Homo sapiens: one gene and its partner. The protein of the gene in region 2 interacts with the protein of the main gene of each other region in a pairwise test. Each region holds a gene or a part of one and is shown on either strand. Other genes may lie near its edges.

Region 1 (7,029 bases), on a different chromosome or scaffold from region 2:
TGGGTGTCAACAGAGAGTGCAGGCAAAGGGTTTTACTGATCTACTAGATAACCAGATTGAAAAAAAAGTATCTTTCTACAAGTCATACATAGACTGGGAGTCAGAGGCACTACATTGGCCTCTATGGTACACACTGAACCCATGGTAATAAGAACACTTAAGAATAATATCTTGGGATACACAGAAGCATTATTACAGCTGATAAATTAAAGCAGCAAATTTCGTGTTTTCCTATTCCCCTATCCTCCTCATCAGTTTGACATAACAAGCACAGTGTAAAGCCAGGCTTTCAGAAGTACTTATAGGTGGACTTAGTTTAAGGGGAGTCACATAGTTGAGCAAAACCGGAGTCATAGCATAAAATATCAAACCTAAACTAACCCCGTGACCACTTAATATTTTCCTAAACTGACATTTGGTATTCATCGCTTAAAACCCCAAAATCGGCCGGGCGCAGTGGCTCACACCTGTAATCCCAGCACTTTGGGAGGCCGAGGTGGGTGGATCACCTGAGGTTGGGAGCTCGAGACAAGCCTGACTAACATGGAGAAACCCCGTCTCTTCTAAAAATACAAAATTAGCCAGGCGTGGTGGTGGCGCATGCCTGTAATCCCAGCTACTCGGGAGGCTGAGGCAGGAGAATTGCTTGAACCCGGGAGGCGGAGATTGCGGTGAGCCGAGATGGCGCCATTGCACTCCAGCCTGGGCAACAAGAGCAAAACTCCAACTCAAAAACAAAACAAAACAAAACCAAAATCACTGATTAGAGTATATAAAACCACCCAAAACCAGGGGGTTGTTTTGTTTAGCAAAGGACATGGCATTAAATAAAGATTTAAAGAAGTCATGGGCCAGGATATCTAGATTATGAAAGAATTTTATTCCTGTGTTCCAACATTTCTGAAATTTAATGCTTCTTACAATTGACATGTATATTTAACGTGACAATGTTTCTATCTAACTTCTTTTTTTTTTTGAAATGGAGTCTTACTCTGTTGCCCAGGCTGGAGTGCAGTGACGTGATCTCGGCTCACTGCAAGCTCCACCTCCCGGGTTCACGCCATTCTCCCGCCTCAGCCTCCCGAGTAGCTGGGACTACAGCCGCCCGCCACCATGCCCAGCTAATTTCTTTTTTGTTTTTGTATTTTTAGTAGAGACAGGGTTTCACCATGTTAGCCAGGATGGTCTCGATCTCCTGACCTCGTGATCCGCCCGCCTCGGCCTCCCAAAGTGCTGGGATTAAAGGCCTGAGCCACCACGCCTGGCCTGTTTCTTACTTGTTAAAAAAACCTTTATAAATCAATGGTTGTTCATAAAATTGAGGGCCTACTAGGAGTGCTTGTCTAAGCTGGATTCTCCCTAGAAAGCAGGGTCCAGGATAAGAGCTTGCAAGTAATTAATCTTGGGGTGAACTCTGGGCACAGGGATTGGGGGGTCTAGGGAGGGTAAAATAGGAAATTAGGTAAAAACAGTACAAAGGTCCATTAACAAGTTGATTGCATTGGTACTACTGTGAGCAACTGGATGGAGTGGTGGGTAGGGCTAATCCCACTGGCAACCTGTAAGGCAGCACTGTCTAGTAGAACTTTCTGCGATGATGGAAATGTTCTATATCTGCTCTGTCCAACACAGTAGCCGTTAGCCATAGTGACTACTAAGTACTTGAAATATGGCTAGTGTAACTGAGGAATTTTTTACTTAATTTACTTCTAATTAATTTAAACGTGAAGCTAGTTGTTATTATACAGAACAATACAGCTCTAAGGAGTCCTACAGAATTTGAGTTATGAGGTGGGGCACAGAGACGTGCAATATAGTGTTCCTTCTGGAACACTGCAATATAGTGTTCCTTTGTCTGTTTTGTTCACTCATGTGCCCCAAATTCATGGAAGAATTCCTAGTACATAGTGAGCTTTCCAAAAATATTCACTGAATGAATCAATAGCACTTGGGTCCACAAACATGCACATGGCTCCCTTGAAAAGAAAGACTGTATTAGAACAAATTCCATTCAGGTCAAATAGTAAGCAACTATTATGTACAAGAAACAAGTAGTAAAGGGGACTTTGAGAGGACTGAGAGGGCTGAAATGTGGTTATGAAAGAGTCATGCCGGGGACAGTGGCTCACGCCTGTAATCCCAGCACTTTGGGAGGCTGAGGCAGGCAGATCATGAGGTCGGGAGTTCAAGACCACCCTGGCCAACATAGTGAAACCCTGTCTCTACTAAAAATACAAAAATTAGCCGGGCATGGTGGCACACACCTGTAGTCCCAGCTACTCAGGAGGCTGAGGTGGTAGAATCACTTGAATCTGGGAGGTGGAGGTTGCAGTGAGCCGAGATCACGCCACTGCCCTCCAGCCTGAGTGACAGAGCAAGACTCCATCTCAAAAAAAAAAAAAAAAAAAAGAACTTTGGGAGGCCTGAGGCGGGCAGATCACAAGGTCAGGAGATTGAGACCATCCTGGCTAACACGATGAAACCCCGTCTCTACTAAAAATACAAAAAATTAACCGGGCATGGTGGCACATGCCAGTAGTCCCAGCTACTTAGGAGGCTGAGGCAGGAGAATCACTTGAACACCACTGAACTTGAACTCCAGCCTGGGCAACAGAGTGAGACTTCGTCTCAAAAAAAAAAAAAAAAAGAAAGGGCTAAGATGAGGTCCCTGGAGATTCTGATCCAAAGGATATTTACTGGAAGTCAGTTAAATGTTCTACAGTGATCTTGTTTCACAATGTACTTCTGTTATCAATTACTAAGCAACAGCACAGGAAGTAATTCAGTATAATCCTTTGTTTTGATTCTTTGGTTACTGTTACCACAAACAACATGTAACTAAAATTTCAGAAGAGAAGGCCATATTTCCCCACTGTTGCCAATTTTCTAACAGAAACAAAATCTTCATTTTAAGAAGTATTTAAGGCCGGTCGCAGTGGCTCGCGCCTATAATCCCAGCACTTTGGGAGGACGAGGTGGGTGGATCACCTGAGGTCGGGAGTTCGAGACCAGCCTGACTAACATGGAGAAACCCCGTCTCTACTAAAAATACAAAATTAGCTGGGCATGGTGGCGCATGCCTGTAATCCCAGCTACTCGGGAGGCTGAGGCAGGAGAATCACTTGAACCTGGGAGGTGAAGGTTGAGGTAAGACGAGATCGTGCCATTGCACTCCAGCCTGGGCAACAAAAGCAAAACTCCGCTTCAAAAAAAAGAAGTATTTAAGCACCAGATCCTCTACTGAGATCATTAAAGGAGCCCCACTCTAATCTAGACCCTAGAACCTACAGCCATACACAGAGATGGATCTATGTAACTATGTATGTATGTATGTATATATGTATCTATCTACCTACCTACCTATCTGAGACAGGGTCTTATTCTGCTGCCCAAGCTGGAGTGCAGGAGCTTATCATAGATCACTGCAACCTTGAACTCCTGGGCTCAAGGGATCTTCCTGCTTCAGCCTCCTGAGTGTAGGTGGGACTACAGGTGCATGCACAGTACCCGGCTAATTTTTTAATTTTCTGTATCACTATCTATAAAATTTACTAAGCGTTAATCATATGCTTCAACACTTTATGTACATCATCTCATTATTGTTATCCATTTTACAGGTACAGAAACTGAAGGGTTAAATGACTTCTCCCAAATTATACAACTAAAAAGTGCCTGTTTTGCATAGTGTCTTTAAATCTAATACCAGGGCATATTCCAATCTTTAGGAAAACCTAGAAATATGCTCAAGATAGGGGTGTAGCCTTGATTTTCTTACTAACATTTTTTTCCCTATTGGTTCTTATGTATTTCCCAGTGTGTATAATTCAATTATTCTGAACTTGAGAGTAAAAAGTTGGTCACTACAAACTTGATGAAGATTTGTCTGCAACATTATTTAAAATAGGAATAAGGCCACACACGGTGGCTTATGCCTGTAATCTCAGCACTTTGGGAGGCCAAGGTGGGCAGACCTTGGCCCACCTTAGGTCAGAACTCCAGACCACCTTAGGTCAGGAGTTCGAGACCAGCCTGGCCAACATGGTGAAACCCTGTCTCTACTAAAAATACAAAACTTAGCTGGGCATGGTGGTGCATGCCTGTAATCCCAGCTACTCAGGAAGCTGAGGCAGGAGAATGGCTTGAACCCAGGGGGTTCAGTGAGCCGGGATCGCACCATTGCACTCCAGTCTGGGTGACAGAGTGAGACTCTGTCTCAATAAATAAATAAATAAATAAAATTAAAAATAAACTAAAATAGGAATAAACAGTAATAGCAAACATAGGATTTGTACAGCGAAAACAAACAGCAGGTGGCCAGTCGCGGTGGCTCACACCTGTAATCTCAGCACTTTGGGAGGCCGAGGCAAGCGGATCACTTGAGGCCAAGAGTTCAAGACCAGTCTGGCCAACATGGTGAAACCCCATCTCTACTAAAAGTACAAAAATCAGTGGGGCAGCCGGGCGCGGTAATTCCAGCACTCTGGGAGGCTGAGGCGGGCAGATCACGAGGTCAGGAGATTGACACCATCCTGGCTAACATGGTGAAACCCTGTGTCTACCAAAAAATACAAAAAAGTAGCCAGGCGTGGTGGCAGGCGCCTGTAGTCCCAGCTACTCGGGAGGCTGAGGCAGGAGAATGGCATGAACCCGGGAGGCGGAGCTTGCAGTGAGCCAAGATCACGCCACTGCACTCCAGCCTGGGAGACAGAGCGAGACTCTGTCTCAAAAAAAAAAAAAACCGAAAAAAAATTAGTGGGGCATGGTGGTGGGCACCTGTAATCCTAGCTACTCAGGAGGCTGAGGCAGGAGAATAACTTGAAGCCGGGAGGCAGAGGTTGCAGTGAGCCGAGATACTCCAGCCTGGGTGAACAAGAGACTATCTCAAAAAACAAATGAACAAACAAAACCAGCAGGCAAGGGATTCTGCTGTTTTAAAGCACTTCATAGATTTAAAATGAGGACAGTTTATATCAGAGATTTTGGGCTTTGTCCCTGAAAGATGGATAAAGTGTGTTTGGTTATAACGTGAATTTATTTCTTCATTCTTACCTTACTCCAAGATTTTCAAAACGAGACTCATCAAGACAAGGCAGTAATGCGCCTGTGATTTCATTTTCTATGGAAGAAAAAAGACAAATTCAATGTATACAACATATGCTTTTCATTTTCTTTCAATTTGGATACACCAACATTTACCCAGATCCACATAAGTGAGTACCCACTGCAGGCAATGGATTGTGCCAAGTACCACTTTTTTGATCTGCTACTTGTAAAGACTTAATTTTAATTAAATAACTAAACCAAGAAGCATTTTTTGATAAATCACGTGAAAATTTCAAAATTATTTGTGTAAATTAGTTCCAAGAAAAACCAGTTGCAAAAAGGAAAGTGAAACCCGACTACCTGTTGGGGTTTTGCCAGGTCAGCAGCTTTGAGTTGGGGAGGGAAGGAAACCTAAGTCTATTGTTCTTAGAATTAACAAGGTTTGAGTTGGGGAGGGAAGGAAACCTAAGTCTATTGTTCTTAGAATTAACAAGTTAAAACCGTGAATTCAAGAGTGCTTAAAGTGTTGATTTTTCTCAAACCTCCTGGGAAAGCACTCAATACTCTGATTTGGAAGAGGTGTGTGTGTGTGTGTGTGTGTGTGTGTGTGTGTGTGTGTCCTGGGAAAGCACTCAATACTCTGATTTGGAAGAGGTGTGTGTGATTTGGAAGAGGTGTGTGTGTGTGTGTGTGTGTGTGTGTGTGTGTGTCCTGGGAAAGCACTCAATACTCTGATTTGGAAGAGGTGTGTGTGTGTGTGAGTGTGTGTGTGTGTGTGTGTGTCCTGGGAAAGCACTCAATACTCTGATTTGGAAGAGGGGTGTGTGTGTGTGTGTGTGTGTGTGTGTGTGTGTGTGTGTTGTTGGGTTTTTTCCTTTCTCTTTCTATACAATTAATTCTAATCTTTCCTGACCTCAAATTCCAGAACTCTGGACTATTTTCTTTTATTTTCTTTGAGACAGGGTTTTGCTTGTTGCCCAGGTTGGAGTGCAGTGGTGCGATCACATCTCACTGCAGCCTTGACCTCCTGGGCTCAAGCGATCCTCCTGCCTCAGCCTCCTGAGTAGCTGGGACCACAGGCATGTGCCACTGCACCTAGCTAATTTTTATTTTTATTTTTTGTAAAGTTGAGGTCTCCTGATGTTGCCCAGGCTGGTCTTGAATTCTTGGGCTCAAGTGATCTTCCCACACTGGCCTCCCAAAGTGCTGGGATTATAGGTATGAGCCACTGGGCCAGGCCTCCAGTGGTTTTTGATGAGAATACTTGTTAAGGTATAGATCACATGAGTTCTAGAGTCCAAAGACCTAACCTTAAAAAATCTAGCTCTTTTTTGTAGTGGTGTGATCTCTGAAAAGTTACTTTACATCTTTGGACCTCGCATACATCATCGGTAAAATGTGTTGAGTGTAGTAACTTATTTCAGACTTCTTGTGAGGCTGTATTCCATAATGAGAAAAGGGACACTGTACCTTGTGCTTGGCTTATCAAATTAAAAAAAAAATGGACTTAGATAAAGAGAGACTTTTTTTTTCTTTTCCGAGATGGAGTCTCACTCGGTCGCCCAGGCTGGAGTGCAGTGGCGGGATCTTGGCTCACTGCAACCTCCGCCTCCCAGGTTCAAGTGATTCTCCTGCCTCAGCTTCCCAAGTAGCTGGGACTACAGGCACATACCACCATGCCCGGCTAATTTTTGTATTTTTAGTAGAGACGGTGTTTCACCATGTTGGCCAGGCTGGGCTTGAATTCCTGACCTCAGGTGATCTACCTGCTTCGGCCTTCCAAAGTGCTGGGATTACAGGCGTGAGCCACCGTGCCCGGCCAAGAGAAACTTTATTAGAAAGAAAGACTATTGCTGGTCGGGCGTGGTGGCTCACACCTGTAATCCCAGCACTTTGGGAGGCCAAGGCGTGTGAATCATCAGGTCAAGAGATTAAGACCATCCTGGCCAACATGGTGAAACCCCATCTCTACTAAAAATACAAAAA
Region 2 (7,029 bases):
TGATTTGTCAATGTAAAGTATTTGCTTTAAAAATTCTAAAAGCTGCTTTGCCAGTGGAAATATAAAGATGCCACGGTGCAAATGGCAAGAATACTGGCCTGGAAGTCAGGAGACCAAGGAGTTATATAATCTCAGATCTACATGATCACTGTTCCTCCGGGTATCTCAGATTTGTTACCTTTCTCACACAGATCTAAACTAATGCTTTTGAAAAACTATCCTCTCAGTTCTAATATTAGATTAAGCTCACTCTGGGGAATGCTACAAACCTACCTTGCTATTTCTTTCCCTTTCAAACTGTTCCTCAAATTGTCTGATTTTCTTCTGAAGTTTCTTGACCAGCTGATAAGGTGTTCTGTCCTCTCTCTTTTCATCTTTTGAACTAAAGGATGATCTTCGAATTCTGAATTAAAACAAAAGGCCAACACTGTTAAATTTTCAAGTACCAACACTGTATCTCTTATTGCCCTGACATGGCACTATTAGCAATAAGTAAATCTTAAAGGTAAAAATAAGTCCCTAACACTAAAGGACAGGTAGTATAAAGAAACACTGTAATGTTACAGACCACAAATTTAGCTAATACAAGTGGTGATGAAAACAGTTTGGAATCATTTAAAACTGGTTTGGACAAAGGCAGCAAAGAAACAAAGATACCTAGCAGCTCAGAGCTCTTGTAACTGTTCAAACTGCATAACAAAGTTTTTGACATTCAGATCCATTTAAAGCTTTGATAAAAAAAGATTAGGAACTGCTCAGCACCATTTGCTGCTTCCTTTACAGAGCTCTGTATTTCAGCGATGAATACATAAATAAATGAATAATACACCACGAGAAAATGTCTATTTGAGAGCAAACTTCAAACGCTACACCTCACTGAACTCAGCAGGGTCAAAAAAAACCAAAACTTACAAAAATGTGCTCTATAAAATCAGTGAGAAAGCTCTGAATTCTATGTCTAGAAGACTCAATCTCTCTCTTTTTTTTTTTTTTTTTTTGAGATGGAGTTTCACTATTGAAGCCCAGGCTGGAAGACTAAATCTCTCAAAAGACTTGGGTACATAATAGGAATTGCCTCTTGTAAGTACATAAAAATCATATACCTAGTAAAAGACAGTGCTTTAGATGAGGAATCCAACTTTTCTGGATCATGTAGGAAACGCTGGCTTTGACCAAAATCTAAACTGCGGTGTGATAATACTGGAGGACAGTCCTCTTCCAAGGGGTGATGATTCATTCTTCCAGCTTGTGGAGACAGCTGAGCTTCTCCAGACTCAGAGTCCTCCTGCCAAGACTTAAAAGCAGGAAATGGCTCTATAAAACAAACACAAAGAATAGTACCATGGGTCTCTTGATTCCACGTGGGAAAAAAGTCACAAAATATCAGCTATGTGTTCCTTAAATCATATCATTATGTAGTGGTTCATATATACATACACACATACACACACACACACACACATACATGTGTGTGTGTATATATATATATATATAATCTTCATAAAGCCTACTATAGTTTAAAATTATTCAAGCTTCACTTTTTAGTCCAGAGTTCAATTTTTTTTTTTTGAGATAAGGTCTCGCTCTGCTGCCCAGGCTCTGGAATTCAGTGTCATGATGGTGGCTCACTGCAGCCTCGACCTTCTAGGCTCAAGCAATCCTCCCACCTTAGCCTCCCGAGTAGCTGGGACTACAGGCGCTTGCCACTACGCCTGACTAATTTTCTTTTTTTTGTTGTTGGTAGAGACGAGGTCTCACTATGTTGGCCAGGCTGGTCTTGAACTGCTAGGCTCAAGTGATCCTCCCATCTCAGCCTCTCAGTGTGCAGGGATTACAGGCATGAGCCACTGTGCCCAGCCCAGAGTTCTATTTCCATATAAATTTAAATTTCTGAACCCAGTGGCAAAGCAAGAAAGGACATTGTCAAGCTCTTTAAAACTCAATTTAATTCTAAAGATGTTATTTAATATAATTCTGAACTTTTCAAAAGATGTTTTATTTACAAATGTTAGTTTTCAAGTAGGGGAAAACCAGAAACAGCAAGAACTGAACAGTTCTTTCTTAGAAATTTAATTTAAAAGCCAAATGATGTCAGGTGTATGACCTGTCCCTCACTGTCAAATAGCTATATTAAGAAAAAGTGGGAGCTGTTCCCCATGTTACATGGAACACTCACCAAATGGAGTTCTCTGACTTTAGAAGAATTCTAATATTCCCAAAGGAGGAGCTAATTCACCTGACAGCACCTGGCCTCTAACATTAAACTGTGATGGTTATCTTCTGCTACAGGATTCCTATGTATAATATATATTTTAATAATACCCAACAGTGTTACTAAGACAAAACTTAATAGCACTAGGCCTTCTTAAGCACATTTACTTTACTGCAGTTATCCTGTATGCCCTCAAATGAAAGCTATGTTAATACATTTGATGTCTTTGCAAATATAATGTTTGATTACATATAGAACACATACAGATCATACACACAATCCACAAATATACCCCAAATACAACATTAAGCACAGGAGGGAAAGAAAAAATTCCCATCTACACATTAGCTTTTTATTTATTTATTTATTTTTTTAGAGATGGAGTCTTGCTCTGTCACCCAGGCTGGAGTGCAGTGGCACGATCTTGACTCACTGCAACCTCTGCCTCCTGGGTTCAAGCGATTCTCCTGCCTCAGCCTCCCAAGGAGCTGGTGTTACAGGCGCCTGCTACCATGTTTGGCTAATATTTGTATTTTTAGTTGAGATGGGGTTTCACCATGTTGGCCAGGCTGGTTACGAACTCCTGACCTCAAGTGATCCGCCTGCCTCGGCCTCCCAAAGTGCTAGGATTACAAGCGTGAGCCACCACGCCCGGCAGCTTTTTTTTAAGTAACTACACTTAAAAATTTTGATGCTATTGGCTATTAGCAATAGCGAAAATGAATGCAAAGAGGGCTTGACAGTGTCAAAATTCAAGAGTGATGTTTTCTTTTTCCTCACACAATAGCTAAGATCGCTGCTTTAGTAATTTAGTTTAACTTTATGCATTAGCAATTTAAAGCATTACCTTTCCTTTCAAAATAATAAGAACATAATTTAGTTTGTTTTTGAAGCCCAGATCAATCTGAGAATTAAAAATTGGGTACAAAGCGTGCAATCCCACAATAAACCCAACAATAAAGTGATTTTCAAAGCAACCCTTGTACCTGTGCCCCAGCAAATAAGTAACTGGTAGTAAACATTTTATGAGAAATATCCTATTTTAAGAAAAGACAAAAGTAATAGCAATTTTTTCTGGGTTCACTTTGAACCCAGAACAGTTTTCCTAAGATATGGGGACAGCAGGAGAAGGGCTTAATAAAAAGACAAACAAAGTGAACCATAAAAGGCAAAAAAACTAAACTATGGTGAACCATACTTACCCTCCCCATCTCTCTGCAGATGCATTGTTTTGAAATCAATGAGGGGAAAAGTGATAGGGCATGACGCTAATAAAATGGAAAAAATGGCAAAAAATACTAAAGTGAACACACAGCACAGTCAGAACAAACCATACACATAACACAAAGCCAAAGATACCAAAAACATTTCCCTAAAACCAGTTAGGCATTCTGTTCAAAAACGTTATTAAAAGAAATCACTACTAACTAGATTTTAACAAACACAAACATAACATTTCCATTTCAGCAAGCAATGCAAAAAAGGGGGGGGAAAACTCAAAGTCGTGCTATTTTATTAAAACTCAAACATAAAACTGAAGAAATGGAAATTCTTAAGCAGGTACTGTTTGAAGCTTTTCAGTGTAAATGATTTTAAAGGAAAATATCTCCCTTAGTTTGCTCTTTGAAAAAATCCTACTGCATTTCATTCCAGAGTTAGCAGGAGAGAATCTGAAGATGGTATCCACTTCCATTAAAAGTCAAAACTTTGCAAACAGCTGCTACAAATTCATACTGGTGACAGTCATGTGCTACCTGCTTGCTAACTACTACTGCATTCTGCTATTTTTCTTATCCTTTGAGGAAAAAACAAAACAGAAACTATGTACTTAGGAATAGTGACATAGGGCTCTATTTGGAGTCATCCCACTTCTCTACAAAGAGTCACATCAAACAAAGCATGTCTGATTCCAAGGTATCCAGGGTCTAAAGTAAGTTGGTCTCTTAAATAAATAAGACTTTTTCATTTAGAATATCCTAACTCCTGGCCGGGCACGGTGGCTCACACCTGTAATCTCAGCACTTTGGGAGGCCAAGGCGGGCGGATCACCCGAGGCCGGGAGTTTGAGACCAGCCTGACCAACACAGAGAAACTCCGTCTCTACTAAAATACAAAATTAGCCGGGTGTAGTGGCACATGTCTGTAATCCCAGCTACTCAGGAGGCTGAGGCAGGAGAATTGCTTGAACCTGCGAGGCGGAAGTTGCGGTGAGCTGAGATCGCCCCACTGCACTCCAGCCTGGGCAACAAGAGCAAAACTCCGTCTCAAAAAAAAAAAAAAAAAAAAAAATTGGAGGAATATCCTAACTCCAATCAATGTTTGCATTAGTGACAAAGTTAGAAGAAACAACATGGTCTACAAACAGCCACTCTACAAAGCACATGCACAGTTCATGGCTGGGAAGTTCGCTCAGGTGTCTGTAACTGTCGGCTTTCTGAAAGTTGCGGACCCCTATTTCTGGAAGAACAAGTAGGGGACCTACATAGACTTGTTTAGGCTGTTGAACCAGGGCAGCTCAGGCACTGAAAATCAGGCATCAGCAGCCTACAGGTTACCTCCTTTATCTATACCAAGGTATAGGTGCTGGATTCTGACATGGAAAAAAAAGACAGTCCAGTATCAGGTTCTCTTTCAGGGAGACTCAAGAACGCTGACGCTAGACAGAGAAGGTCTATCCTCTTCAGACAATGAAAAACAATTATTCTTCTATGTTTAAAATTTAATCAGGACTCCCAGGCCAAAGATCATAAAGAACTATTTATCTGCATCTTCTAATAGGAAGAAACAAAAGTGCTTTATCAGAATCCAAGCTGCTTCCTTTGAAGACTCATTTCCTAGCAATGCTGCAAGGGATGCTCTGTCGACCACCATTCCTTTTATTTCAGCCACAATAAATAACAAAAAAGAACATTTAATCTTCAACTGCCACCAGTATGCTAACATATCCCCCAACACTGGGAAGCATCTTCATAAATTCCAGATGTCCTGAATAACCCAGAACAAAGCAAATTAAAGACAACTTTCTAATTTAGTCTAAGTTAAAACAGATAATATGCCACTGGGCATGCCAAACATCTAGACCTATATAAAAAGGAGGGTGGGGAGGAGATGGCAATAAAAATTGGCACAGACAATGACTTGGTTGGGGCTCTTAAAAAAAAATGCCTAGACCTTAAAAAAAAAAACAAGACCCACACACACTCCATTTGCGATCAGGTGAGTACACTTAAACAGTGCCAAAAGGAGTCCGTGGCACTGGCATTAGAATTCCTGTTATTGCCAGTGTATGTCAACAGATACTTGCCAAAGGTGAGACAACCCAGGGATCTTCATCCAAGTGAATGAATATGTAACTATCCTTAAGATTCTTGAGTTATCTCATTGTCTCTTTACCAAAGTGTATGATCCAGAAAAACTCCTAGATCCAAATTTATTGCTTGATTCCCACCCCCACTCAACATTTTATTTGAAAGTTTACAAATACATAGCAAAATTGAAAGAACTTTACACTGAATATCCATATACCAATCACAATCTACCATTAACATTCTACTATACTTGCTTTATAACATTTATCCATCCCATTAACCATCTTATTTTTTTCATGGATTTCAGAGTAAACTGCAGGTATCAGTAAATTTCCCCATAAACACTCCAGCATGCAAATCATCCACTGAAGTTCAGCATTTGTTTACAGTTTTTTATCCTCTTGAAGTAAAAAGAGAACTTTATATACAAAGAAACACAAAAATCTATGTATTTGCTGAGTTTTGAGAAATGCATATACCCATGTTGTTTGCTTGTTAAATTTTAACTTCTCTCCTTTGTGCAAATTTTTAGAGTCCCCTGCACCATACCTTCATAACCTAAGACAGAAATACAGGAATATGGTACAATATTTGTTTAGAAGTACCCTTGAAGGTCATTTTTCAAAAAAGTACTACTGATGATACTAAGGACAAGGTAATTATACACGCTCTGCTTAAACTGGTGAGATCCCTAAGCCTTAACATACTGGGCTTCCAAAGACTAGGAGATAGCACCTGATTTAAATATTAACAAAAACGTATGCTGGGTGACTTTTTAAAAAAATCAGTTCTAACATCCATTTTCAAAGCTGTTGATGGATCAGACAAGAACTTCTAGTTCATATGAGATGCTGCCCCAAAATCTCAGTGTGTTTCACTAAAAACACCCACTTGTTCATCTTACATGAAAGGGAGAACAGAAGATCAAGATGAATAAGGTTATCCAGAAAAGGGCTGTAGTCTTATCATTGCTTAGGGTAATTTCGGTTACAAGTAACATTATCAGGAAAATAATGCGTGTGGGTAAAATTACCTTCCCATTTATCACCATCAGAAACATTCTTCAGATCTAAATGTGGAATACTGACACACGCTGCTTCCCCTTGAACACCAACACTCTGACCTCCTGGTACTTCTGATTCAGTGTTGGCATTCAAATCACATATCTTGCTACTAGAATCCTGTATTTTAAAATAAAGAATATATTTCACAACTACGGAAGCTTTTCACACCCAGCTTAAACACATCCAGCACATATCCAAGTGTAGTCTTCATTAGTTTACTGTGCCTATACAGCCAACTGTCCCACTCCCACTGTGCAAACTATTTTCAAATATAAACATGCAGTTTTAGAATATGTCTTATTGGAAGACAAGTTTGGATCCCAAATTCAGGAAAGTGTTTTCACAACCAAGTCTCTTGTAACCAAAAGTGGCAAATTAAGTTGCTGTTTAACTGTAAAATATTTGGTAAGAGTATTTATATTTAAATCTTTAAACCTAGCTAACC

The links. Proteins that work in one complex are often made in the same cells at the same time.
Region 1: the proteins of FAM13B (region 2) and SAMHD1 interact in a two-hybrid assay, tested with the Homo sapiens proteins (one study listed by BioGRID).

Annotation. Positions count from the first base shown.
Region 1 is NC_000020.11:36,941,689-36,948,717, forward strand, and holds part of SAMHD1 (deoxynucleoside triphosphate triphosphohydrolase SAMHD1), read right to left. Parts: intron 5,117-7,029; coding exon 5,050-5,116; intron 1-5,049.
Region 2 is NC_000005.10:137,953,063-137,960,091, forward strand, and holds part of FAM13B (protein FAM13B), read right to left. Parts: intron 6,702-7,029; coding exon 6,554-6,701; intron 3,481-6,553; coding exon 3,415-3,480; intron 1,315-3,414; coding exon 1,104-1,314; intron 428-1,103; exon of another isoform or gene 404-427; coding exon 274-403; intron 1-273.